Linked DNA regions of Homo sapiens. The protein of the gene in region 2 interacts with the protein of the main gene of each other region in a biochemical or structural test. Each region holds a gene or a part of one and is shown on either strand. Other genes may lie near its edges. The genes, in order: ATCAY, POLI, TM6SF1, TMEM43, PEX11B, MAP3K20 and FGF7.

Region 1 (4,658 bases), on a different chromosome or scaffold from region 2:
GCTGCAAGGGGACACTTGGCATTGTCTAGAGGCACTTTTGTCACAACTGAGGGGAAGGAGTGCCCCCTGGGCAGGCCAGGGGTGCTGCTCAGCACCTTACAGTGCCCAGGATGGCCGCCCATGACCAAGAATGACTGGGTCCCAAATATCCATAGATCCAAGGTGGAGAAACCTTGTCTTAAAGGCAATAGTCATTTCTGTGTGCATTCCCGTGTTTGCGAAAGGATTTCAGGCCTGTGTCCGGCAGTCATTATAGAGTATTGTACACTCTGTCCTTCCATTACCTCTGTCTGTCTCTCAACAGCTTCCGAGTAGCTAGATCCACTTTTTTTGTTGTCATTTTTTTTTTGAGACAGAGTCTCGCTCTGTCGCCCAGGCTAGAGTGCAGTGGTGCGATCTCGGCTCACTGCAACCTCCACCTCTTGAGTAGCTTGGACTACAGGCGCGTGCCACCACGTCCAGCTAATTTTTGTATTTTTAGTAGAGATGGGGTTTCACTATATTGGCCAGGCTGGTCTCGAACTCCTGACCTCATGATCCACCTGCCTCCCAAAGTGCTGGGATTACAGGTGTGAGCCACCCTGCCGGGCCACTAGATCCACTTTTTAAAGCGTCTAGGGGCTGGGTGCAGTGGTGCATGCCTGGAATTCCAGCACTTTGGGCAGATCACTTGAGACCAGGGGTTCGAGACCAGCCTGGGCAACACAGCAAGACCCCATCTCTCAAAAAAAAAATACAAAAACTAACCAAGCACAATGGTGGGTGCCTGAGGTCTTAGCTATTCAGGAGGCTGAGGTGGGAGGATTGAGCCCAGAAGGTCAAGACCAGCCTGGGCAACATAGCAAGACACCATCTCTACGAAAAGCAAAAACAAAAACAAAAATTAATTAAATTTGGTGGGTGCCTGAAGTCACAGCTGTTCAGGAGGCTGAGGTGGGAGGATTGCCTGAGCCCAGGAGGTGGAGGCTGCAGTGAGGTATGATTGTGCCACCACATTCCAGCCTGAGCAACAGAGTGAGGTTCTATTTCAGAAAATAAAATAAAATAAAATAAGGCATCTGGCTGGTGCGGTGGCTCACACCTGTAATCCCCAGCACTTTGGGAGGCTGAGATAGGAGGATCGCTTGAGCCTGGAAGGTCAAGACCAGCCTGGGCAACATAGCAAGTCCCCATCTCTTAAAAAAAAAAAAATACAAAAATTAACCAAACATGGTGATGGGTGCCTGGTGCCTGAAGTCCCAGCTATTCAGGAGGCTGAAGTTGGAGGATCGCTTGAGACCAGGAGGTCGAGACTGCAGTGAGCTATGATCATGCCACTGCTTTCCAGCCTGAGCAACAGAGACCCTACTTCAAAAAATAAAATAAAAGATAAAGCATCTGGCTGGGGGCAGTGGCTCACACGTGTAATCCCAGCACTTTGCGAGGATCGCCTGAGCACAGGAGGTTAAGACCAGCCCGGGCAAGATAGCAAGACCCTGTCTCAAAAAAACCAAATACATGAAGCATCTAAGGCCCCCAACTCTCATGGCATCCAGGCTGCCTCTCTGTGGAGTAGGTTACCTGCAGCCCCCCAGCATAGATATCGGGTTTGCATCGGGGACAGGGGACTGTGGCTTAGCAAGGAAGGACCCAGAGGCAGCCTCAGCCAGATGAGGAAGTGGGGGGAGGGGACGGCTAAAACTAGACCCTCCCCCGTACAGGGTGAGCGTTTCTCACTCGATTCTCTGTCCTCAATGTCGTCATTCATGCTTGGAGGAGGGACAGTAACACGCAGCATGGAAAAAAAAAAAATCCCTCCTGGATGCTATGGGGTCGGGGGGGGGGCGGTGGCAGCAGCCAGCCAGGCCCTTCCCGCGAGGGTAAGTTCTCCTCGGCAGTAGAAACGCATTTGCTCTCCGGAGGAAGGGGTCTTCGCCTCTCCCTTCCTTATACTGAGCTGGGTGTGACCTCAGCCCCCAGGAACACTCCCACCAGCCCCGCCCCCGACCCCCACCCCCTGCCAGCTGCAGCCACAGGCGTTGACTCCACAGTCTTCTAAGGATGGGGTGGGGTGGGTCCTCAGTGGGCCCCGGACACTCCTGCACTCAGATCCTGGCTTCGCATTTGGGGACGGCCAAAAGAAGACAGTGACATCAAGGAACGGGAGTGAAGCGCTCATTTGAGCCCTGATGTCTGATTATTAACAAATCACATACGAGTTCCAATAAGGAGGAGGCATCTGTGTCTTAAACCATAAACCACCCCCTTCCTCCCCACCCCACAGGACAGCCTTTATCGACACACTTAGATTTTTTTTTTTTTTTTTTCCCGAAATCGTCGGCTGGTGGCCTTCCTAGCGTTATAAATAGGAAATACATAGGGCTAGGATGGGTCTATTTCAGCGTCCCAGAGAGAAGCTGAGGTTTTCATCCGCCCGAGCTCTCAGCGTGTCCTGAAAATGGTGCACTTAGAGGGGAACGGTGCGCGCGGAAGGTAAACTGTGTTGCTGGGCGCAGCTCAGGGAACGGTTTTCCCTGGTACCGGGAACAGGGATGTGAGGGCCTTCACGGAGTCACAAGACCGTGGCTCTCTGCTCCCACCCGCCCCATCTGCTGGAAAGGGATTTAGAGGCGGCAAAGGCTGCCGGATAAACCTTCCAGGGAGACGGTTTATCCTGGGAGAAGGGGAGATGCGCGCACTCACCTCTGCAGCTGAGACAGCCTCTCCTCCTTACTGGCAAACAAAGGCGAGCCCTGCCCGGGTGCAGCTGGGCATCGCTCACGCTCCCCGGGCCTTCAGAGCCTAGGAGGAAGAGGATGCTCGCAGGGGCGGATTCTGCATCCGAGGAAGGTCACCCAGGGCGACGTGGCCAGCGCCCGCCAGCTCTTTTGTGCAGGGGTGGGTGGGGTGCAGGGTTAGCGGTGGGCTCCCCAGCGCGGGGCTGCGGCTGCGCCCCCTCTCATCGCCGCCCGCCTGCGCGCCCTGCCTCCGAGGTAGCTGCTTCTTCCCAGCTCAGGGCTGGCAGAGGCTCGGCTTCCCGAAGACGGTTAATTTATGCTGCTTTTGTGTGCAGGGAGGAGGGGGTGGGGGGTGGCGGCCTGACGGAAAAGCACAGCCCCCTGCCAGAATCCGATCCTCCCCATTGGCTGACAGACAAGCATCTCCGAAAGCCACGCCAGGGGCAGAGGCAGAAATAATTTTCTGATGGCGCATCAGAGATTTAAAAACAAAACAACGGACAAATAAATAAATAAATGGCAAGATGGCCTCATTCCTTAGAGAATGGGGGGTGGGGGAGTTGGGAAAGGTCTTCTTGGCACTTCTCCTTGCAAAGGGAGCAGGGGTGAGGGGTGGCATCCCCCAAAAAGTCTGTGCAGGCAAAGAAATGACTGTCCCCAGGTCGGATGCCATGGCTCACGCCTGTAATCCCAGCACTTTCGGAGGCCGAGGAGGGAGGATCACCTGAAGTCAGGAGTTCGATACCAGCCTGGCCAACATGGTGAAACCCCGTTTCTACTGAAAATACAAAAATTAGCCAGGCGTGGTGGCGTGCGCCTGTAATCCCAGCTACTCGGGAGGCTGAGGCAGGAGAATCGCTTGAACCTGGGAGGCGGAGGTTGCAGTGAGCCGAGATGGCGCCACTGCACTGCAGCCTGGGCGGCAGAGGGAGACTCTGTCTCAAAGAAAAAAAAAAAAAAAGAAAGAAATGACTGTCCCCAGGTCACCGTGTTGTGGGTCCATTAGATGGTCACTTACCATTGATTCAGCCTCGTGCCCTAAACAGGGCTGGGTGCAGGGGAGGCGGAAGTTTCTCAGGCACACTCACTTTGCAGGGCTGCTGTGGGAACGGCGCCCCCTGCAGTTGTGCGCTGGCGTGGCCTCGCCCTGGAGGAATTCAAGGAGACTGTGGAAGATGGTAGGGTGGAGAGTGCAGGCCGTGCAGTCGGACTGGAAGTGGGTTTGAACTCTAGCCCAGCCACTCCCCAGCTGGCAGACCAGTGGGCATGAGTGATCTCACCTGCGGGCCTCAGTTTTTCTCATCTGTGAAATGGAGCCGCTATGGCTTTTCCACATTATGAGATAATGCATAGACAGCACTAAACACAGTGCTGGGGCACAAGAAAAGCTCCCTATGTGTTTCTTTCTCTTTCTTTCTTTCTTTCTTTCTTTCTTTCTTTCTTTCTTTCTTTCTTTCTTTCTTTCTTTTTTTTTTTTTTTTAGGTGGAGTCTCGCTCTGTTGCCAGGCTGGAGTACAGTGGTGCGATCTTGGCTCACTGCAACCTCCGACTCCCAGGTTCAAGTGGTTCTCCTCCCTCAGCCTCCCAAGTAGCTGGGATTACAGGCACACACCACCACACCTGGCTAATTTTTTTTTTGTATTTTTAGTAGAGGCGGGGTTTCAACATGTTGGCCAGGCTGGTCTCGAACTCCTGACTTCAGGTGATCCGCCCACCTTGGCCTCCCAAAGTGCTGGGATTAGAGGTGCGAATCACTGTGCTCGGCCTATATGTATTTCTTGCTATTGCTGTTTTTAATGTTTATTTTATTTACTTATTTTTTTAAGAAACAGGAGTTTTCCCTGTCATCCAGGCTGGAGTGCAATGGCACAATCACAGCTCGCTGCAGTCTTGAACTCCCGGGCTCAGGTGATCCTTACACCTCTTTCTCTCCAGTGGTTG
Region 2 (3,960 bases):
CTTTGCCCACTTTTTGATGGGGTTGTTTGCTTTTTTCTTGTAAATTTGTTTAACTTCTTTGTAGATTCTGGATATTAGCCCTTTGTCAGATGGGTAGATTGCAAAAATTTTCTCCCATTCTGTAGGTTGCCTGTTCACTCTGCTGATAGTTTCTTTTGCTGTGCAGAAGCTCTTTAGTTTAATTAGGTCCCATCTGTCAATTTTGGCTTTTGTTGCCATTGCTTTTGGTGTTTTAGTCATGAGGTCTTTGCCCATGCTTATGTACTAAATGCTATTGCCTAGGTTTTCTTCTAGGGTTTTTATGATTTCAGTTCTAACATTTAAGTCTTTAATCCATCTTGAGTTAACTTTTGTATAAGGTGTAAGGAAGGGATCCAGTTTCAACTTTCTACATATGGCTAGCCAGTTTTCCTAGCACCATTTATTATATAGGGAATCCTTTCCCCATTGCTTGTTTCTGTCAGGTCTGTCAAAGATCAGATGGTTGTAGATGTGTGGTGTTATTTCTGAGGCCTCTGTTCTGTTCCATTGTTCTGTATCTCTGTTTTTCTGCCAGTACCATGCTGTTTTGGTTACTGTAGCCTTGTAGTATAGTTTGAAGTCAGGTAGCATGATGCCTCCAGCTTTGTTCTTTTTATTTAGGATTGTCTTGGCTATAGGGGCTCATTTTTGGTTCCATATGCAATTTAAAGTATTTTTTTCCAATTCTGTGAAGAAAGTTAGTGGTAGCTTGATGGGGATGGCATTGAACCTATAAATTACTTTGGGCAGTATGGGAAAATGGCCTAAATTTTTTAAGCCCTCTCCAACCCATACACTTATCCACTGGCAGAGGTAGACGGCTTCCAGACTCTAGTGTTTGAGCAAAACCTTTGCCAATCACTGGCTAACCATGAAACTATACAGACATGGGCAACTTCCCAGAAGCCAGTATTAAAATAAAAATTTGAATGGAAAAAAAAAAAAAAAACACTTGAGCAGAGAAATCAGTGGCTACACAGCACAGGGGAGGTAAATTCTGCAGATTACGTTCAGACAAGTTACCTAAAAAGAAGTACAGGAAACAAAAAAGAAAAAACCCTACAAGAAAAAATTGTAAATCCAGAGTTGCTACAATACATTATCTATGAGGTTCAGTTTTCAATAAAATAGTTCAAAACATGCAAAGAAACAGGAAAGTGTGATACATATTTGGGAGGAAAAGCAGTTAACATAAATTGACTTTGAGGTGAACTTAGCAAAGACTTCAAATTCATTATTATAGATATGTCCAAAGAATTAAAGACAACCATGTTTAAAGAATTAAAGTAAAATATAATGACTACAAAAAAAGGAGAATCTTGATAAAGAAACAAAACCAAACATATAAACAAAAGACAAACAGAAATTCTAGAGTTAAAAAGTACAGTAACCAAAACCAACAAATCACTACAGGGGCAACAGCGGTTATGAGATGACAGATGAATCAGAGAACTTACAGGCAGCTCAATACAAATTATCCACTTTGTAAGAAAAAACGGAAAAAAAAAAAGACTACAGAAAAATAAACAGAGCAGCAGAGACCACCACAGGGTGGAATCAGTGTTAAGGATAAACATATAGACCAATGAAACAAGAAAGTCAGGAAATAAACTCTTATATTTATGGTCAATTAATTTTTGACAAAGATGTCATGGTAATTCAGTGGGTGGAGAATAGTCTTCAACAAATGATGCAGGAACAACTGGATACCCACATGCAAAGCAAAGAATGAAGACCCTTACCGTATACCACACATAAAAAAATTAACTCAAAATGGACCTAAACATAAAGCTTAAAAACTATAAAACTTCTAACAGAAAACAGAAAAAAATATCTGTGACCTTTGAGTTAGGCAAAGAATTTTTACATATAACACCAAAAACACTATCCATAAAAGAAAAACCACACTACTATATACCGCTAGAACAACTATAATCAAAGAGACTGATAATACAAATATTGGCGAAAATATGAAAAACTGGAACCTTCAAATATTGTTGATGAAAATGTAAATTAATACACAAACTTTGGAAAAAAGTTGGCAGCTTCTTAAACAGTTCATGTTACCATATGATCCAGCAATTCCACTCTTTGAAATCTACCCAAGATAAATGAAAACATATGCATATGCCCATCCAATGACTTGCATTTAAATGTTCTTCAAAATGGAAACAATCTAAATGCCCATAAAGAAGTTATCTCATGCTATACAGTTATCACAGTTTTGTTCTCTTTGAACTTGGAAAACATTCTTAAATGACTCTTTACTTAATTATCTATTTAAAAACAAGGCCAGGTGCAGTAGCTCATGCCCATAATCCCAGCACTTTCGGAGGCTGAGGCAGAAGGATTGCTTGAGCTCAGGAGTTTGAGACCCTGTCTATCCTAAATATCAAAAAAGTTAGCCAGGTCTGGTAGCATGCACCTACTGTCCCAGCTACTCGGGAGGCTGGGGCAGAAGAATTGTTTGAGCCTGGGAGACAAAGGCTGCAGTGAGCTATCACAGCACCACTGCACTTCAGCCTTGGTGCAGAGCAAGACCCTGTCTCAAAAAATAAATAAATAAATAAACAAACAACAAAGTTTTCCAGTGAAAATTCCTGATAGAATAAAAGCATTTAATTGCTTGCTAATTCCCTGTGAAGACCCTCCATTTTTGGAGCATATTTCTCATTCAAAGTTGGCTTATTTAAGAGTTCAACCTGCTAATGAAACTGTTGGAAAACTAGTCCATACCTGTCCCTAATTTCTGAATTACATGTGAAGGAATAGGGCACTGACGACTCTCACGACCATAGTGCTTCTCAGAGGAATACCGACGGATTATTAATCTCACTGTATGAGGCTTCCTTCCATCTTGGCATACTCTAAAAATAAAGAGAAAGTGGAAATAAGGAATTAGAAAAGTATTACCTTTTTAAATTATGTAACATCTCATTTATCTAAAGGTGCCAGATTTTGTTAAATATGACAATTATACATATAGCAGATAACAAAATAGTAAGCAATAAAGGTCCCTGAGTATCCAAATAATCATCACAAAGTCTATGCACTAAAACTCTGAATGTTTAGATGTCAAGCTCTCAGGCCTCACTCAGAATTGAGTGCTGTCAGAAATAGAAGAGATATAAGATACAATCATAACAAACTGTTTTATAATACAGATCCAAAACAAAACTAAAAGCAACCAATTTTTTTTTTTTTGAGATGGAGTCTCACTCTGTTGCCCAGGCTGGAATGTGGTGGCACAATCTCAGCTCACTGCAACCTTCACCTCCCAGGTTCAAGCAATTCTCCTGCCTCAGCCTCCTGAGTAGCTGGGACTACAGGCATGTGTGACCACACCTGGCTAATTTTTGTATTTTTAGTAGAGAGGTGGTTTTGCCATGTTGGCCAGGCTGGTCTCGAACTCCTGACCTCAGGTGATCCCCCCACCTCAGCCTCCCAAAATGCTGGGATTACAGACGTAAGCCAACACACCTAACCAAAAGGCAACAAATTAAAATCAGCAGGAAATTTAAGAAACTGAATCATTCACTGACAAAAGCAAATAAGTGAAAAATAACAAAAGAACTTTTTTCAAACTTTTTTCTTACGAGATTACCAAAAAAAAGATTTTTTTTTACAAAATGACATTACTTTTGTTAAAGAGTAATCACTATTACCATTATATGATAGCTTATTAGAGCAATATCTTAAAAGAGCATATACTATATTTAGTATATAATTAATATACAATATGAGTACATGCATTTTTTAGAAGAGTTTCATGCAAATGTCTTGGTTTTGGTGTTGAAACAAAGGTTTTAGTGATATGACAAATTCACTTAAGTAGTACTGGAAAAAATGTCATTAAAGGATAACATTTCCCTTTTTATACACATGGCAATGCATATAAAACCAAATCTCAAACATAAAATGCAAGTATTGCACATTGTT
Region 3 (3,500 bases), on a different chromosome or scaffold from region 2:
AGGCCCAAAGTGCCAAAGAAGAATCTGAAATCTGAAACATTAAATGTCATGATGATGGATAAGAGAATTTTGAAGATGCACAATTTATATCATAAATCACTGGCCATGGAACTTTAGGAAAATCATTTCCTTCCTCAAGTCTCAATTTCCTTATCTGTGAAATGAAGAATTTGGGCTAAATGATCTCTCGAAGGGCTCTTGTAGCTCTATGAGTCCACTTTTTTTCTTGAAATGACATTTTAATGATAATAAATTTTAAAGGTAAACCATAAACCTGCCACACCACTATTAACCGTTGGTATACTTTTCCAGTAATACATGTAAATAGATATAGTTACATACACACAACATACATATATACACACACATATATCTACATTTTTCACAAAATTAGGAACAATTTTATATATAAAATTATTCCTGTATATAAACAATTCTGTATTTGTTCTTTTTGCTCTCAACATCTGCCTATATTATAAGCACTTTCCCACATGTTTAAAAATTTTCTCAAACTGAATACCATATGGAAACACCACACTTTAGCCATTCTCCCACTGTTGGATATTTAGGCATTTTTCACTGTTATACTTAATGTAATGATGAACAACTTTGTAAATCTTTGGTGGTATCTGTGTGATGATTTCCTGAAGATAGGGCTCTAGGAGCAGAATTATTGGGTTCCAGAATTATTAAGGTTGATAACATTGCCAAATTGCTTTGCAGAGCAATTCTGAATTTATGTTTCTGTCAGCACTGTATGACAATGCCTGCTTGGCCCTGGCTGTCACTGTGTTTTCACATTAAAAATAATGATAAGTAATTCTGCATGCCTCATGGCATACCTACTCTGTTGACACACTGACATGGAACCTTTAAAAGCAGTGGAGCTGGGACTAAGGGTGGACTGACTATTTGCTTTTTCTTTTTAACAGCCACCTCTTTCCTCAGAGGGAAGTTAGTACCAGCTGTCAGTGTGCCAGCCTGAGTTTACATAGAAGGTGTCTAAATGTTTACAAATGAAGTATTTGTCAATTAAAATGTATTTTAATGAATTATACTGAAAATCTTTTGTAAAATGAATAGTCGTATTCTGATTATCTCTAGTAATTCATATTTTCATATATCAGTTTTGCTTAAAAGATCTTGCTAAATGATCTAATACCTAGAAAAGTAAAAGAAACAGAGAGAAACTAGCTTAGAAATGAAGGCCTTAACAGAGTATCTGCCAGGCCAGTGCTGTTTCACCTTGACTACCTTGGCTGTGAATGGAAGGGAGGTGTCTCAGATGTCCTGTAGCCAGTCTCTATGGGCCTGGATCTCTGGAGTCAAGATTGTATGGCTGTGTAGACTACCTTGAGGAGCAGTATCCCTCCAGTGTCCTCTTGGGGTAGTAAATGCATAGGTGTCACAGAGGAACCCAGGTGTTCAACGTCCAGGCCATTAACAATCCTAGATGAACCACACACTATGGACTTCACTTGACACACTAATGCAGAATCTGATAGTTAGAGCCAGTGTGACCACTGGCACAGGAAGCTCCCCAAAGTATGGCCTTGCCAACAGAAGCAGATGTATTCAGACAGAAACAGACCTTCTTGCCTACATTAATTAATACGTAAGCTAATGCTACATAATCAAAACAGTCGCACTGTTTGGATGCCCCAAATGCTCCAGTCCACAGAGGCATGGTTCAATTCAGTGGCCAGTGGATGCGAAAGAACCCTATGAGTTTGAGAACAGGGTACATCAAAGCTTAATAAAATCACCTTTGAGGGGTAATTATAATTTTCTGATGGCTGATTATAGATTCTGAAACCAGCCCAGACAGGAAGACAAGTATATGGTATGCTTAAGAAAAAAGCAGGGCAAATTCGTGTTCCATACTTCCCTATTTAAAAGAGAGAAAGAGAAAGAAGTTACCAAAAGCATATCTAACACAAGTAATATTTAGGATACCTCCCCATCTCAGGTCATCTAAAATTTTGCTATGGGCCAGACAATATTTTTAATGAGGCCAAATTAAAAAGGTCAATTTAAAATACTAGATGTGTATTAACAGGCATGTCCTATCTACAGTAATCTGCTTGAGCCCAGGAGATCAAGGCTGCAGTGAGCTATGGCTGTACCACTGCAAGCCAGCCTGGGCAACAGAGTGAGATCCTGTCTCAAAAAATACATCTAGATAGGTATCTATATATGTTTGTATATATCTATCTCCCTATATCTATATCTATCTATCTATCTATCTACCTATATATCCTGATTTCCTGCATACATTAATAATGTACTTGTAATTTCCAAGTACATTTTTGGAGTTCTCATAGTGTGTCAGGAGTTAACATATTTGCACACTAAATATAGCCATAAACACCATACTCACTCCCTCAAGATCCTTCTAAAAAAACAGGAATCCCTGATAACTTGACTGCCAAATTGTTCAATGCACACATCTGAAAATTGCTCAAAGCACTTCTTAAAAAGTACTTTTTTTAAAGGTGAGAAAAAGGAATTATTCTGCAAAACAGGTTTTTAGTAAGCTTGGAATCACTTGGTTCTATTATAACTAAAAGAGCTTCTCTATTTAAAAACAAGCCCCATTGTTTTAGAAAAGGAAAGTGAACTTTAAGATAAAGTTTCTTACCTACAATGTTTCCTGGCACAAAAACAACAACACTCATAATAATAGATCCAACCCAATATAGGCCAATGGTTCTATAAGTTTCCCTGTAACAACAACAACAAAAAAATCTTGACTTGGTATGTTTGTCTTAGAATACTAAGCAAAAAATGATCTTCAATATTATTTTGTATTCAAACTAGTAAAGTACATCAATCAAAACATATTGAATTGAGAGGAATAAATCAAACACAAGGAGCCCTGGTTATGTAACTTCATTGCCATGTGATATACTATAGAACCTTCTTCGTGTCCTTTTAAATAGGAAATTACGCCTGCTATGTCTTCTGTTAAACTACAACATGATCATCCCTGCCACAGGACTCCTGCATTTCCCTATTGTGTGTGAAACTCAACAGCATGAAAGGAAAAAGAAAGTTGAAAGAAGAAATGAAATTGGATCCATATTTTTAATCATTATAAGTATGAGTTATACTTACAATGATAATGTTAAATGGACTTTTTCTGGGGTCACAGAATTTTGGCCAAAGCCCCAAAGGTGAAGACAAGTGACATGTACCCCATGTTGCAAAGGAGCTGCTAGACATATACCCCAAATCTTCAATGCTGACAAAAACTTCCTTCAGGCCGAGCATGGTGGCTCATGCCTGTAATCCCAGCACTTTGAGAAGCTGAGGTGGGCAGATCACTTGAGGTCAGGAGTTTGAAACCAGCCTGGCCAACATGGTGAAACGCCATCTCTACTAAAAGTACAAAAAAAAAAAAAAAATTAGCTGGGCATGGTGGCATGCACCTGTAATTCCAGCTACTTGGGAGGCTGAGGCAGGAGAAATGGTTGAACCTGGGAGGCAGAGGTTACAGC
Region 4 (3,960 bases), on a different chromosome or scaffold from region 2:
AGCCACAGACTTGTGTTTTGGGTGTGCCTGCTTTGAGGGGTCCATGCCCAGTGTGTCTGCTGGTGACCCAGGACTCAGCAGTAATGACTAACGGCCGCCCTTCAGGATCACAGATGTGCTTGGTGGTGGTGGCAAAGCATGGCACTTGTGTGCAGTGATGAGAAGCAGCACACGGCAAGGCTGAGCCCTTTATCAGCAGGCCTCCGTAGAGCGTGTCTGCGTTGTCAGCTGCCAATGGGCTGAGTGGCTGGCCGTACCCACTCAGTCCAAGAGAGGAAGGAAACAGCAGGAGAAGCTGTCAGCTTGCCATTCATGAGCTGCTGCTGCCCACCAAAGCTGCTTACTGGCAAGAAGAGATGTGGGGAAGACATGAGCTGGTGAACACCAACCTGGTGCACATGCTGCCAAGTCTGGCCCCTGAAGAGGAGAGGGAGTGCAGAGTCCAAAATTGACCGGGGCTCCTGCTCTGGCATGGAGCTGGGTCAGAGGTGAGAGAGGACCTGGATCCTAGGGCTCACGCAGGTGTCGGGCGGGTGCCAGGGTCTTTTCACTCCAACTTTTTGGCTGGCACCCGTGTCCGAGCAACAAGGATGGGCACAAGGGCCAGGCCGGCAATGAGGAGGGCCCACAGGGGTCGGTAGAAGAGCCAGCCAGCCGCCACGGTCAGCAGGGTCAGCGAGGTGGCCACACAGAAGGCAAAGGCTTTCAGGCCAATGTTGACCAGGTCTCGGAAAACAGGAAACCAGTCCACTGTGGAAAGGAGAAAGGTGATGAGGTGCCACCTGCTCTACACCTCACCAGCTCAGCAGATCTCTCCTGTCCCTAGATGAGGATGGGCCCATGTTGCTACATGCATGAGGAGGGGAGAGGATCAGTGGGTGGAAGGCAAGGAGCTTCGTTCTGAAAGCTAAGGGAGCACAGGAGCCTCTGCTATGAGCTGCGTGGTTGGGCACATTGCCTAAGCCACCCACTCTACCCTGATCCAGGGGAGAGGATGTAGCAGTGCTTTGTAAACTTTAATACTTTATGTGGAGAGTAGTCTGAGGCCAGTATAAAGACATTTGCCTGTAATGCTAGAAATAACCTGGGTCCTGCACACTCATACAAGAGGCTGTGGGTGGAGCCTCCTGAAGGTGCCTATTTGGGCCTCTCAGCCATTCCTAGAGGTGTTGGTTCATTCATGCAGCAGGCTGTTACTAATGATTTATGTGCCCAGCACTGAACCAGCAGGTGCTAGAGGAAATAAATTAGCCTAAGCATTGGCCTCTCCTCAAGAATCTCACAGACTATTGGTCCAATAGGATAAAGCCCAGAATCCAGCTAAATTCATGAGGAATTACCCTATTCTTGCCTTGTGTGACCTCTCCAGGTTGGCATTCCATAGCTGATGTCCACTCAGGGAATCTTCGCTCAGTTCCCAGGAGGCCACCAATGGTCTGGAATCACTGGGTTTGCAGAGCAAGCCCTGGTGCCCCACCATGCCTGCAGCACACCCTGCAAGCCACTACCTGGCCTCATCCTGATCTGTTCCCATACAGCACTGCTACTCAGCCCTTATAATAAGCAAAGTTCATGTTTCTGAACGTTGCCTGTGTTAGGCACCATGTGCACCATCTCATGAAGCACTCATGCCCACCCTGTAAGGTAGGTACTCTTCTTAACTCCATTTTACCCACAGGGTCACTGAGACTCAGGGAATTAAGAAACTCACCACCAGTCCTCCTGTTAGAAAGTGCCAGAACCAGGATTTGAACTCAAGACCGTATGGGCCCAGAGCCTGGGCTCTGAGCTGTTGCTCTAAGTCTTGTCTGTCTCTAGCTGTGGAGTCTTACACACGTTGGTATTTATCAAACGCATGGGGAACTGTGTGCTTCCCTGCTGCGCTCCCAACTCTCCCCACCCACCCTGGGGGTCCCTCCACACTCTAAGTCTGTCCTGAGTCTGGCGCATTCCAGACGTAGAGTGAATTGGGATCACAGACATCAGAGATCCAAAGAAGGGCCCACTGAGACAGACACGAGGAAACCAAGGCTCCAGAAGGGAACTGGTCTCCCCAGGGTCACACAGGCAAGAAAGAGGATTCCGTTTAAATGCTCATCTCTCGCTAATGTGCCCACCACGTCACTGGTCTTTCTGAGCACAATTCAGCTGTCCAAAGAAAGGCTCAGGGAGAGTCCTTCCCTTCCCGGGCCTGTTTTCCCAACTGTAAACAAAGGAGGTGGTCCCCCCAGCTCAGACAGCCCAAGATGTGCAGCCAGACCTCTTCTGACTTGTGCATGCTGAGTGGGGAAGAGGTTTCTGTTGGCACCCAGAGAAGACTGATGCAATCATGTGACTGGAAGGGACACACACCAGGGAAAGGCTTGGATGGAGAGTCCTCCGAGGAACCCCATCCTCCTGGGCCCAGAACGCACTTAGTCACCCTGGGCACTCAGATCCCGAACCACGCTGGGCCACAGGTCTCCTACTGGGCTCACTGGTGCCAACCTCAGGTCAAGGAGTGGCCCAGAACTCTCCTTCATGCTCCAGACTTGCTGGCTGCCCAAATCTAGCCCAGGTTTTGGAGTGAGGAAGGAAGCATGAGAGTTTTGGGTGTTTCCTATTTGCCACATTTCATAAAACTCTGCATGTAAGGGGTGAGGTGACTGAAGCTGAGATGGGAAGGGAACGGCCAAGCATCCAGAGCTTGGACGTGACAGATTTCAAATGCAGGTCTGGCAGGCTCCCATGTGGTATTCAATTGTGGATCAAAGGAATGAGCAAATGATCGAGCCAGCAGATGGACGAACCTTCAGGCTGTGGAGTGAGACCAGTGCCCCAGAGTTGGCCCCACCCAGCCTGGCCCCTGGCAGCTCCTGCCCTCAAGCCTGCCTTCCTCTGCTCCCTCATCCCAAGGCTATGGAGCGGGGACACAGAGATGAGCCAAATGCCTGGTATCTGCACAAGGGCCATCCCATCAGGCTGGAAGGGCTGAGATGATGCGACAGGCAGAGGAGGCCCTTTCAGGGTGCAGGAGGGAGGGCAGTGACCCACCCCAACACCTACCCAAGGTGTAGAGGATCCGTGTCATAAGGTTGAGGCCCATGAACATGGCCATCCAGCCAGCTGCCCGCAGGCCCCAGGTCTTCATGGAGTTGCTCCTTAGTTCTCTATGAAACACCTCCTGCAGGACAAGGTGGGGGCAGGTCAGGATGCTGAGGGCCAGTGGCGTACCCAGTCGGCAGGGCAGGTCCTGAGGGGGCTGTACCAACTCGGGAGCTGTTGGCCATTTCTGAACAGGCCAGACGGAGTGGGGGCAAGCCTCCTATAGGGCTAAGTCCTTCTGCCCATCTGGCAGAGCACAGGGCAAGGCATGAGATCTCTGTGGAACGTACGGGCCTTCCTCAGCTCAGAGCCTGCCAGCACCTGGAGCCCTCAGCCCACGGTCTCACCTGGAATGAGCAGGACCCTGCCCACCACCCCTGAGCAGGTTGGAGGATGTCTGCTGGGCAGCATGCTCTGCGCTATGTGTGTGATCTGTTTAATCTCAGAACCTCTCCACATGGCTTGGGGACACTGCACCCTCCTTCTCAGGCTCCATCGCTGTCGCTGCCCCTCTTCCTGTCCATTAGATGCTGCAATTCTTTAGCTGCTTCAGTCCATACTCTCTCCCCGGACATCCCATCTGCTTCCTTGGCCTCCACATGCCGTGACCCTCCAATTTAAAGCTGCAGCTCTGGCCCTCTCCCGGGCCTCACAGCCCTGCAGCTCCCACCACCTCCACCACCTCCTTGACATTTCCACTTGACATCTCAGCCTGTCTAGTGCTGACACTGGCGCCTTCTCCATCTCAGCACATGGCACACCCACCCACCCACTCACATCTATGGGAAAGACATGGCTCGCTCCTCCCCTACCACCCCATCCAGTCCAGGCCACATATTCCCGAGTCTCTTACCACTGTCTGCCCGCAGGAGCCTC
Region 5 (4,582 bases), on a different chromosome or scaffold from region 2:
ACCTGGCTAATTTTTGTAATTTTAGTAGAGACGGGGTTTTGCCACGTTGGCCAGGCTGGTCTTGAAGTCCTGACCTCGTGATCCCCCCAACCTCGGCCTCCCAAAGTGCTGGGATTACAGGCGTGAGCCACTGCGCCCGGCCTGCAATCCATTTTCAACATCTCAAAAAGAGATGTCCTTTAAACACAATTTGAATCATGTCATTTCCCTGCTCAGAATCCTTCAATAATGTCCCATTGTAGGATAAAATAAAACAAACATTAACATTGCCTAAAAGGCCCTGTATGAAAGATCTGGTGCCTGTCTATCTCTCAAATTTGAACTGATGGACTCAATACTGTCAATCACACTGGCTTTCTTTCTATTTCTCTAATTCCCTTAAGTCTTTCTTAGTTCAAAGCCTTACTTAGAATGTGCAATTTTCTCTGTTTGGAAATGTCTTTTCTGCTACTGTTGGCTTTGTCTAACTCCTCCTACTCAGACATCAGGTCTGAGCTAAAATATTACTTTCTCAAAGAGTTTTTTCCTGATTTTCCAATCTAAATTAGCTCCCCTTGTGATATTCTTTCATAATACCGCATACTTTTCCACAAATATATATGAGAAGTTATTCATTGTAGTATCTAACTCCCTCACTAAACTAGAAGCTTCATGGGAGCAGGCACATTATCTGTTTAGCTCTTTGCTTTATCCCCTGCGCCACAGTAAGCATCTAATAAATATCTTTGGAATGAATGAGTAAGCAGGTAGTGAGGGGGAATAACCTGTGGTATAGAAGCACAATTAAAGTGATATAATATCTTACCTTGCACAATATTAGTCATTCATTATGGAAGAGCATCTGTCTTCCATCTCTCCCCATTTGATATTCTCCGATAGTTTAAGATCTAAGTGATTGGAAGCCAAGTGACTGATCAAGACTTATATACTCTGGAAAGATCCTAAGATATCTTTCCCTCATATAAGACAAGCTATGCAATATAGAGGCTACAAAAAAAAATCTTAAAGGAGAACAGGATATCAAACCTGAATGAACGCTGGGCCCACTTCTCCTGATCCACACGGGGAGCCAGTCCAGACTTTCCAGCCCACAGGACATTGTCACAGGCGAAGTACAAGGCTCGATTGAGGTGACTAACAGTGATGCAGAATCTCAGGACAACATCTGATAGGTGAACAGCTCTTTTGGCTGACTCAAGGGCATCTGCTGAGTTACCCAGGCGTAGAACTTGTGGAGATTAGAAAGGGAAAGCAAGGATTTGTAAGTGGAGAGGCAGATAACAAGAAACAGAAACAGAGAAAGCAAGAGGGCAAAAGTTGAGCAATAATAATGACAATTTTTTTAAAGAGCAGAAACAGGCTGGGCATGGTGGCTCAAGCCTGTAATCCCAACATTTTGGGAGGCCGAGGTGGGTGGATCACCTGAGGTCACGAGTTTGAGACCAGCCTGGCCAACATGGTGTAACCCCATCTCTACTAAAAATACAAAAATTAGCCCGGCATGGTGGTGGGCACCTGTAGTCCCAGCTGCTCAGGAGGCTGAGACAGGAGAATTGCTTGAACCTGGGAGGCAGAGGTTGCAGTGAGCCAAGATTGCGCCACTGCACTCTGACCTGGACGAGAGACTCTGTCTCAAAAAAATAAAAAATAAAGAGCAGAAACAGTCCATTTTTCAATTTCAAATTTAATTTTTGTGCCAGTTTAGTTTTCTCAAACTTGACCCATTCTCTCCAGTCCGCCTAATTACTTCCATACCCCTGCTCTCTTATCTCAACTGGACTCATGCAGAGGGTAAGTGCAGAGCCAAATGAGAAAGAAGAACAGAGAGGGTACAGGAAGGAGGGACAAAGGAAGGTGAGCTGGGGATGGAGGAAAGGTTGGGGGATAAAAGGAAAGACAGAGTTACTTACGCTTTCTTCCAAGGCTCAGGTGGCTCTCCAGTTGTCGAATCTGTTTCTGTAACTCAGGACTGGCTCCATGCCTCTGCAGCGCATGGCCAAGAAGAGAGCAAGCATACTGGGCGGCCCTAGAGGAGAGGGCAGGCAAGGTAAGGTGGAGACCTCCCTAACCTTCCGCTCAAAACTATCTTCCAAAAGGCACAGACAGACTTCCCCCTTTCCCAGTTTGAGAACACTCCCCTTCCTCCTCCATGCCCATATCTCACCATTTCTCCAGGCCAGAGGAAGGGAAAGGCATAAGGAGAAAAAAGAGTCTAGAAAGGGGTGGGGAGCACTATTGAATGTTGAGCAAATTAGAGATTTGACAATGATGAGGCCTGAAGGGGCCAGTGCAGGCCGCAGGGGTCCATCACAAGCACATCAGCGTGAGCATGTACGTGATCGATGAGGGGGAGGCAGACAGTTGGAGGGCATTTTATTCCTCAGAATAGGTGAACTGAGAGATTTCAAGGCCCTCTAGCTGAATGGAGACCAAACGCCAGGGCGGAGGCAGGGGAGTTCCCGAATGGCAGCACGGTGTGGGGACACGGAAACTGGGAGTGCCTCCTCAGCTCTGGGGGCAGAGTCTGGGGCTATCCACCGTGGGGCGAATGCTCCTCATTCCATCACCGCCCAGTGAGGACACTGTCGGTCTTATGTGGACACAGCAACCCTGAGCGGCCTCCCCGCTGGCCCACTCATGCCTCAGTTTCCCCATCTCTTCCGCGAACGGAAAGGAATCATCTCAACAGCGGCTCAAATCTGCGCCTCACGGTCCGTTCGGGCCCCCGTAGCCGGAGTTGACCCTTCTTGACCCCCCTGTAGCCTAAACTGACTTCGCCTCACTAGAGTCTTCCTCTGTCCATCCCTCCCCCGCCCCACCCCCATTCCTATTCGGGCCGCACCTACACAGCCGCTCCCGGGCTTGGCTCTGAGCACTGAAGCGGACCCAGGCGTCCATGACAGCCGCAGCCCAGGCTCCGCGGCCCTGCTCCCGCCCCACTTCCCGCCCCTAGTCACGCCTACTGCGCGACCCAACGGTGCCTCGCGAGGGACAAACAGTATCAGAAAAGAAAGCTTGGCCCTGGAAGCGGAATTTCAGGACGCGAAACTCGTGTCTTTTGAGCCTCCATCTGTGTATTACTGTGCGTGTCTGCGTCACAGCTTCCCCTTATCAGACGACCCCTACTCCCTAGCACGCCTCCAGCGGCACCTTCTTCTTTAAATATTCATGACCAAGGGCGGGGCCTGCAGGGGCCGGGGCGGGGCGAGAAAGCGCCGCAGTGATCTCCACGTCTTGGAGGCCGCCGGCATAGGTGTGCGCCTGGCAGAACCTCACAAATACACATGCACGCAGGCCCCGACTGAATCCAGGGCTGTAGGGGCTAAAGAGGTCTAGGTCAGTAGAGGCCTGAAGCCCAGGCTGGTCTGTCCAAGGAAAAAGGAGCGTGATTGGTACCAGATCTTCGTTCCCTGCAGAACCTTGACAGTTGAACAAGTGACCTCCTCCAGAACAGATGGAGAGTCTCCAGAAGCAGAGGCTTTAGTGAACGAAATTCGCAATAATCAGCTCCAGATCCTGAAAAGGAGGGCGAAGAATCAGTGGCCAAAGCTAACCGCTTCATACCCACACTTCATCCTCCTCAGTTTCTCTCCAGGCCACCATGTCTGCAGGCAACGGCACCCCTTGGGGTCAGCAGCGGGGGAGGAGGTCTGGGCTGGATCAGGAGTGGAGGTGGAGGGCTCAGAGCTGCCCACCTTCTCGGCAGCAGCCAAGGTCCGAGTGGGAGTGACCATTGTGCTGTTTGTTTCTTCGGCTGGAGGGAACCTGGCAGTCCTGTGGTCAGTGACACGGCGGGAACCCAGCCAGCTCCGCCCCTCTCCGGTCAGGAGACTCTTCATCCATTTAGCAGCCGCCGACTTACTAGTCACTTTTGTGGTTATGCCCCTAGATGCCACCTGGAATATCACTGTTCAATGGCTGGCTGTGGACATCGCATGTCGGACACTGATGTTCCTGAAACTAATGGCCACGTATTCTGCAGCTTTCCTGCCTGTGGTCATTGGATTGGACCGCCAGGCAGCAGTACTCAACCCGCTTGGATCCCGTTCAGGTGTAAGGAAACTTCTGGGGGCAGCCTGGGGACTTAGTTTCCTGCTTGCCTTCCCCCAGGTGAGTGACCTAGGACTCAGGACCGGGCAGGACAGGGATTTGGGTCCATAGCATGAGTTAAAGGGTGCGCTTGGGGGCCATTAGCCATTAATTCTCAGGGAGTAAGCCTCTGCTTGCTTTTTTTTTTTTTTGCCGGCTCACTGCAACCTCCGCCTCCCGGGTTCAAGCAATTCTCCTCCCTCAGCCTCCCGAGAAGCTACAGGCGCCCGCTACCATGCCCGGCTAATTTTTGTATTTTTAGTAGAGGCGAGGTTTCACCATGTTGGCCAGGTGGTCTCCATCTCTTGACCTCATGATCCACCTGTCTCAGCCTCCCAAAGTGCTGAGATTACAGGCGTGAGCCACCGCACCCTGCTACCTCTGCTCTCTCTTCTGTAAGATTATTTGTATGTTAATTTACATCTGTTAAGAGCCTGCCTTTTCGATTCCTCAGGGATCTAGAACTAGAAATACCATTTGACCCAGCCATCCC
Region 6 (3,960 bases), on a different chromosome or scaffold from region 2:
ACTCTAAAGTCCTTAAGCCACTGATTTAAACTGTAATAAAATTTATTATCTTCCATAACAAGAAGCCCAGAGGTAGGGCAGGCTCCAGGTGCAGTAAGATAAGCTGGCTCAACCATATTCAGAGAGTGGAATGAACCTTCCCTTCTTTCTGCCCTGCCATGCTCAATAGGCTGCCTTTGCCCTCGGCTCCTCTCCTGTTTACAGTCATCACACAAAGATATCACAACGCCCAGAGGAAATAACGGGTTAGGTCCCTACCTGTTCTTATATATAGGAGTAAGGAAAACTTTTCTAGAAACCCCCAACAGACTACCCGTCAGCAATTCTGCTTTGGCCAGAATGGAGCAACCTGTCCGTTCCTAAACATAGCATGAGCACATCTGACTTAAACTAATTAAAGTCGATCCCTGGAGCCAGAATGCAGTCAACTCTCCCGATCACGTGGCTACATGGAGGGGGATGGAGACTGAGCAAAATCAGGGTTCTATTGGAAGGCAAAATTCCAGAGAAGTCAAGGCGAGGAAAGAAGGCATTGTGATTCTGTATGCTACTGCTCATGTGACGTATGTAAAGTAGTCAAAGTCACAGAAACAGGAAGTAGAAGACAGTTAACAAGTGGCGGTCAGGGGGCAGGGGAGAAGGGAGGGGAAATGGAGAAAGAGGAAGGTAGAGATTAGTGGGTATAGAGTTTCAGTGTTGCAAGATGAAACAGTTACAGAGATCCGCGCAACAATGTGAATATACTAACACTACTGAACTAGAGGCTTAAAAATGGCTAAGATGGAAAATGTGGTTTTTACCACAATAAAATACACACATACACACAACAACAACAACAGAAGAAGGCATTGTGATGGACTGAAGCCTGGGAGGAGTCTCTGGAATTGTCTGGACAAGTCACTCACTTCAGAGCTCGGGGTCACCTGTGCCCAGGCAGTGAGGAGACAGAGACATGTGCATGCTCTGATACTCTCCACGCGCACTATCTGCGTGAGCAGGGGGTGGAGTAGCTGAGGAAGCTGAGGCTGGGAGGACCACCCAGGAACTCTAGAACATGGGTAACGTTGTTCAGGCTCGGGGGAAAACAGAAAAGATCTCAGGTGTGAGGAACTTGCTTATTCACTGAAATATAGCTTACTAAATGGTTCTTGTTAATTCACCATTTTCTTTTATCTTAACTTCTTCCTATCTGCCAATGCAGCTTCATTTTTTTATGCTGAAAATACTTCTTATTCCCGAGCCTCAGGATCTCTCCTGTGGACACGTGAACGGTCTTTCTTCCAAACAATCTCTAGCTGTCTCAACCTTCGGAACCTCATTTCTCTTATCTGCATTTAGGGTCCTTGAGGTTTTAAAAATGCAGGTGGCAAAACAAACCTTTTGTTTACTAAACATGCCCCTGCCACCTGAACATACTTTCTAGAAGTAACAACACAACTATGTAGGAAGAAGATGGGATTTAGATGCAGAAGGACTTGGTATTATTGACTGAGTGATCTTGGGCAAGTCATTTGACCTCTCAAGCTTCCTCATTTATAGAATAAAACTATTAGTGTTTACCTAAGAAGATTACTGAGAGGATTAAATGAGATAGTGTAAGTAAAGCCCATGGAACAATGCCAAGCACATAGCATATATTGAATAAGTGTAAATGTCCTTATTTTTTAAAGTATTTGTAATAAAAGAAACGTCCTTATACATAGCCTAGAATTTCTATGAATGGTAAAGCTTAGAGCATCCCAAACAGCCCTGAATTATCCTAAGACAGGCGTATGAATTAGACATGCAGCTTTAGTGTGGCTTAAAAGATGCTCATTTCCATTTCTCCCGCAGGTGCTGATTGCCAGTGGTTAGATACTCTGAGGATGCGGCAGATTGCATCCAACACTTCTTTACAGCGTTCCCAGAGCAATCCTATTCTGGGGTCACCGTTCTTCTCACACTTTGATGGCCAGGATTCCTACGCTGCTGCTGTGAGACGGCCCCAGGTGCCCATTAAGTATCAACAGATTACACCTGTGAACCAGTCCAGAAGCTCGTCTCCTACTCAGTATGGACTGACCAAAAACTTCTCTTCCCTACATCTCAACTCTAGGGACAGTGGCTTTTCCAGTGGCAATACTGACACCTCTTCAGAGAGGGGTCGATACTCAGACAGAAGCAGGAACAAATATGGACGTGGTAGTATATCACTCAATTCTTCTCCTAGAGGAAGATACAGTGGAAAGAGTCAGCATTCCACTCCTTCAAGAGGAAGATACCCTGGAAAGTTCTACAGGGTTTCTCAGTCAGCACTCAATCCTCACCAGTCGCCTGACTTCAAGAGAAGCCCCAGGGACCTCCACCAACCCAACACCATACCAGGGATGCCTTTGCACCCTGAGACTGACTCAAGAGCCAGTGAAGAGGACAGCAAAGTCAGCGAAGGGGGCTGGACAAAAGTGGAATACCGGAAAAAGCCCCACAGGCCATCTCCCGCCAAAACCAATAAAGAGAGAGCCAGAGGGGACCACCGTGGATGGAGAAACTTTTGATGAATTGAACTACATAGCTTTTCTAAGCAGGTTAAAAAAAAAAAAAAAAAGAAATGTAATGGTTTTTGATAATATGATCCCTTCAGATTGAATTAACGAAAAGACAACACTTCCAGTTTTTGGATTGGGAAATACCTTCTAATTGAGACTATAGCCAAACCAGGGCCAAAATTATGGATATTGGTCACCCAGTGATCATAACTAGGCTTGAAAATCACTACACATATTTTCTGCCTTGAGTGAACATTTTTAGAGGAAAGGTTATGCCATCTTTTTACCCTAACCACTGATATTCTGGTTAGCAGGGCCAGGACAAGGGGAAGGAAAATGAGGTCAACAAAAAAATCAAATTTTTAGGAAAAGATAAGATGAATGTTACTGATTTTTCCTTTTGGCTGAGGCTGCAATATGGCCTGGCAAGGCACTGTTACTGATCTTGTCTTTAACATTTTGATATTTTGTTCATCATAATTTTTGCATTTATTTTTTTAAATATTGCATTAAAATATCATTTAGCTTGATTATCGAGTTTTTTGGTTTGAGGTTTTTTGTTGCTTCTTTTTTCTTTTCTTTCTTTCCCCCTCTTTTTTTTGGATGTCCCCTTAAATTTTGTGCCCAAGGCAGGTACCTCACTCATCTCATCCTTGGCTCAGCCCTGCTGGTTAGTATTTAGTATTTATTTTAGTAAGATATTTGTGTCTGTATGATGGTCAGAGTTGAACTGATCTGGCTTGTCATTTTTCAGTAATAAAAAAAGTTACTGAATTTAATGTTGAATATGATGCATATCTCATTCATTACGATTTATCAGAAACCAAAGATTTAAATTGCCTAGATTTGTGGTTCTTTCTCTTCCTAAGTTCCCAGCGACTGCTTTCAAATACTATTTTCTAAATTTCACCAAAGGAGCAAAGAGGATAAAACAACACTCCATAAAGGCCTCTTGGGATGTCAGAAATCTAAAATCTAAAAGAAAACAGACACAGAGCAAGACAATAACATCACAAGCTAAAAGCCAGAGAAATTTAAAATTACCAACATCCTTGTTGGAGTAAGACAGTAAATATCAGCCTTGCAGCAAGACAGCTCTGAGCAGCTGTGGGCAAAGAGGTAAACCAGTGGGGGTGCAAGGAGACTGTCTGCAGCTTAGGGCAGAAATGGTGGGATCCAACTTGTGAAATGCTTCATGTTTTACAAACCAAAAAGTCAGGTAGCAACAAACTTATTGTATGTCAAATCAATAAATGTTACTTTCAATATTCTGAGATTCTGTTCAGCATTCACTAACCCTGTTTAGCATTCACTAAGCCCTACATAGGATTCTCAGTGCTCTGTAGAAATCCAGAGGACACTCTTCTAATTCTGTGGGTTTGAATTCTTTTTTAAAAGAAGCTGGTCATCAGAGTACATGCATTTGTTCTCAGGG
Region 7 (3,500 bases), on a different chromosome or scaffold from region 2:
TTACTTTATTTAGTGTGTCATTAAAACACAGGATTTAAGGAAGATATATATAATAAAGGAAAATAGTAAGTTACCATTCTTGTGTAAACACATTTTGTAAATACTATTTCAACAAAGATTTAAAAGTTAATTACAAAGGTATAAAGTTATGAAGTATTATATAAACAGGATTCATAATTTTGTTTTAAATGGTCTTTTAATGTATCAAAATACTATCAGTTTAAAACAATCTTTTTTTTAAGGCAGTAGGCTCTGTTTACCATCATTTACACTTGCTTTAATTAGAATTTTCTTCACTTTCAGTATATTCAAGAGCTATTCTGTTGGCAATAATTTTTAAGATAAAGTTTATCCAAATAGAAAAGTAATTATATAATGATTAAGAGCCAGAATGTCTGGGTTCAAATTCCAGTTCTGCTACTTATCAGGTATAAGAATTTGGGCAAATTTCTTAGTTTCTCTGTGCTTCAGTTTCCTGATCTGTAAAACTGGGATAACAAGACTACCTGTCTCAATCTGTGGTTATGAGTAAATGAGTTAATACATAAGAGCAATGCAATAATCCTTGGCATGTGGTATGAGTTCAATAAACATTAGCTATTATTATTATAGTAAATTAGAAATTTAATTCTAGAGAATAAAAAGCTGAACTCAAATATGTAACTATTTATTTGATACAGACACATTTTCTACAAAATAAAAAACCATCGGTTTGCACTTCCCTTATATAATGACTATCTTGGTGTTTGTGTGTATCTGTTGTGGGTCAGGGGTCTTGGGCTGAGTAAATAATCACATTAAAAATTTTAAAAACTTCCGATTAAAACAGAAATAAGAACAAATGGCCATTCGTGGATCATTTGCAAAACTGAACGAATATTTGACATGTCTTTCTGTGATTCCTTGCAGATATCATGGAAATCAGGACAGTGGCAGTTGGAATTGTGGCAATCAAAGGGGTGGAAAGTGAATTCTATCTTGCAATGAACAAGGAAGGAAAACTCTATGCAAAGGTATTGATAATTGATAGCTTAGGCTTAATTTTTAAAACTCATTTTTGTCAAAATATCTCACCTTTCTGAAAAGTAAAAATGGAATTAATTTATCTCCAACTGTATAATTTAATGATTTTATTAAAACACTTTATACTCAAACGTTAAGAAAAAATGTTTTCTGTGTGACTTTGGACAAATGGCTTGTTCTTTGGATTTTGGTTTCTTCATCTGTAAAATGAGTTGAATTAACTGACCTCTAAGGATCCTTCCAGCTCTAAAATTCCATGTGCATTTTAGATATTTAAAATCCAAAATTTCCATTTGCCAGTATTAAAGCTCTTTTTGTTAAAGTTCACCCAATTTGCACATTGCTGACATGAAAATTCTTGGGAAAAAATCTTGAAATGTTTAGTTCATTCATCAACATCAATCTCACAATCATGGGCATTGAAATGTAATTATTCACATTGTCCCCACTTCACTACAATGCAAAATATGTAACAGTTCATCCCACCATAATAAAATATAATTGGCTTTCCTTTGTATTCCCACAGCTAGGCATAATGATACAGGTTTAATTGAATGAACAAATGGTTGCATGGATGAACAAACAAATTAACCTTTTATCTTCCATTACCATTGAAGACAATGTAGAAGTAAATAAAGTTGTGAAACAAGTCTCTCACCTGAGGGAGGCAGAGGTTCTGCTAATTATACCAAATTTCCAGTGGTTAAAGAATGAGTGATGTGGGAATAAGTAATATGAGGCCTGTTACTTAGGGGGAAATAGGTCCTAATTTAAAGAATAGTTGACATGAACTTCCAAAAAGCTACACATATTTCATAACTAGCTGTGTATTATGTGGTGTTTTTATTTCAAATTTAAGATACCTTTTTATGCAAATATACTACATAAGTATAGCTAATAAACCACATTAGGCCTGCTCAATCTGAGGGTTAAAAAAAGTTGTGTATGTTTCAATTCTACCAAATATTACCTGCTTACTCTTCGTTTAATTGAGCCTCTCTAAAAATCATTTGGATAATGTCTGTTTGTTTGTTTGTTTTAACAGAAAGAATGCAATGAAGATTGTAACTTCAAAGAACTAATTCTGGAAAACCATTACAACACATATGCATCAGCTAAATGGACACACAACGGAGGGGAAATGTTTGTTGCCTTAAATCAAAAGGGGATTCCTGTAAGAGGAAAAAAAACGAAGAAAGAACAAAAAACAGCCCACTTTCTTCCTATGGCAATAACTTAATTGCATATGGTATATAAAGAACCAGTTCCAGCAGGGAGATTTCTTTAAGTGGACTGTTTTCTTTCTTCTCAAAATTTTCTTTCCTTTTATTTTTTAGTAATCAAGAAAGGCTGGAAAACTACTGAAAAACTGATCAAGCTGGACTTGTGCATTTATGTTTGTTTTAAGACACTGCATTAAAGAAAGATTTGAAAAGTATACACAAAAATCAGATTTAGTAACTAAAGGTTGTAAAAAATTGTAAAACTGGTTGTACAATCATGATGTTAGTAACAGTAATTTTTTTCTTAAATTAATTTACCCTTAAGAGTATGTTAGATTTGATTATCTGATAATGATTATTTAAATATTCCTATCTGCTTATAAAATGGCTGCTATAATAATAATAATACAGATGTTGTTATATAAGGTATATCAGACCTACAGGCTTCTGGCAGGATTTGTCAGATAATCAAGCCACACTAACTATGGAAAATGAGCAGCATTTTAAATGCTTTCTAGTGAAAAATTATAATCTACTTAAACTCTAATCAGAAAAAAAATTCTCAAAAAAACTATTATGAAAGTCAATAAAATAGATAATTTAACAAAAGTACAGGATTAGAACATGCTTATACCTATAAATAAGAACAAAATTTCTAATGCTGCTCAAGTGGAAAGGGTATTGCTAAAAGGATGTTTCCAAAAATCTTGTATATAAGATAGCAACAGTGATTGATGATAATACTGTACTTCATCTTACTTGCCACAAAATAACATTTTATAAATCCTCAAAGTAAAATTGAGAAATCTTTAAGTTTTTTTCAAGTAACATAATCTATCTTTGTATAATTCATATTTGGGAATATGGCTTTTAATAATGTTCTTCCCACAAATAATCATGCTTTTTTCCTATGGTTACAGCATTAAACTCTATTTTAAGTTGTTTTTGAACTTTATTGTTTTGTTATTTAAGTTTATGTTATTTATAAAAAAAAAACCTTAATAAGCTGTATCTGTTTCATATGCTTTTAATTTTAAAGGAATAACAAAACTGTCTGGCTCAACGGCAAGTTTCCCTCCCTTTTCTGACTGACACTAAGTCTAGCACACAGCACTTGGGCCAGCAAATCCTGGAAGGCAGACAAAAATAAGAGCCTGAAGCAATGCTTACAATAGATGTCTCACACAGAACAATACAAATATGTAAAAAATCTTTCACCACATATTCTTGCCAATTAATTGGATCATATAAGTA

Evidence for each region.
Region 1: the proteins of POLI (region 2) and ATCAY form a complex in vitro, tested with the Homo sapiens proteins (one large-scale study listed by BioGRID).
Region 3: the proteins of POLI (region 2) and TM6SF1 form a complex in vitro, tested with the Homo sapiens proteins (one large-scale study listed by BioGRID).
Region 4: the proteins of POLI (region 2) and TMEM43 form a complex in vitro, tested with the Homo sapiens proteins (one large-scale study listed by BioGRID).
Region 5: the proteins of POLI (region 2) and PEX11B form a complex in vitro, tested with the Homo sapiens proteins (one large-scale study listed by BioGRID).
Region 6: the proteins of POLI (region 2) and MAP3K20 form a complex in vitro, tested with the Homo sapiens proteins (one large-scale study listed by BioGRID).
Region 7: the proteins of POLI (region 2) and FGF7 form a complex in vitro, tested with the Homo sapiens proteins (one large-scale study listed by BioGRID).

The regions. Positions count from the first base shown.
Region 1 is NC_000019.10:3,879,033-3,883,690, reverse strand, and holds the start of ATCAY (caytaxin), read right to left. Parts: upstream 3,007-4,658; 5' UTR 2,683-3,006; intron 1-2,682.
Region 2 is NC_000018.10:54,286,209-54,290,168, reverse strand, and holds part of POLI (DNA polymerase iota isoform a (long)), read right to left. Parts: intron 2,889-3,960; coding exon 2,758-2,888; intron 1-2,757. UniProt on the Homo sapiens protein: Error-prone DNA polymerase specifically involved in DNA repair. Plays an important role in translesion synthesis, where the normal high-fidelity DNA polymerases cannot proceed and DNA synthesis stalls. Favors Hoogsteen base-pairing in the active site.
Region 3 is NC_000015.10:83,121,145-83,124,644, reverse strand, and holds part of TM6SF1 (transmembrane 6 superfamily member 1), read right to left. Parts: intron 2,725-3,500; coding exon 2,642-2,724; intron 1,889-2,641; coding exon 1,767-1,888; exon of another isoform or gene 1,255-1,766; intron 1-1,254. UniProt on the Homo sapiens protein: May function as sterol isomerase.
Region 4 is NC_000003.12:14,138,383-14,142,342, reverse strand, and holds part of TMEM43 (transmembrane protein 43), read right to left. Parts: intron 3,164-3,960; coding exon 3,046-3,163; intron 751-3,045; coding exon 548-750; 3' UTR 1-547. UniProt on the Homo sapiens protein: May have an important role in maintaining nuclear envelope structure by organizing protein complexes at the inner nuclear membrane. Required for retaining emerin at the inner nuclear membrane.
Region 5 is NC_000001.11:145,915,791-145,920,372, forward strand, and holds the start of PEX11B (peroxisomal membrane protein 11B), read right to left. Parts: upstream 2,928-4,582; 5' UTR 2,899-2,927; coding exon 2,843-2,898; intron 2,740-2,842; exon of another isoform or gene 2,656-2,739; coding exon of another isoform or gene 2,642-2,655; exon of another isoform or gene 2,165-2,641; intron 2,027-2,164; coding exon 1,911-2,026; intron 1,229-1,910; coding exon 1,027-1,228; intron 1-1,026. UniProt on the Homo sapiens protein: Involved in peroxisomal proliferation. May regulate peroxisome division by recruiting the dynamin-related GTPase DNM1L to the peroxisomal membrane. Promotes membrane protrusion and elongation on the peroxisomal surface.
Region 6 is NC_000002.12:173,264,217-173,268,176, forward strand, and holds the end of MAP3K20 (mitogen-activated protein kinase kinase kinase 20), read left to right. Parts: intron 1-1,833; coding exon 1,834-2,534; 3' UTR 2,535-3,799; downstream 3,800-3,960. UniProt on the Homo sapiens protein: Stress-activated component of a protein kinase signal transduction cascade that promotes programmed cell death in response to various stress, such as ribosomal stress, osmotic shock and ionizing radiation.
Region 7 is NC_000015.10:49,482,242-49,485,741, forward strand, and holds part of FGF7 (fibroblast growth factor 7 precursor), read left to right. Parts: intron 1-909; coding exon 910-1,013; intron 1,014-2,068; coding exon 2,069-2,263; 3' UTR 2,264-3,500. UniProt on the Homo sapiens protein: Plays an important role in the regulation of embryonic development, cell proliferation and cell differentiation. Required for normal branching morphogenesis. Growth factor active on keratinocytes.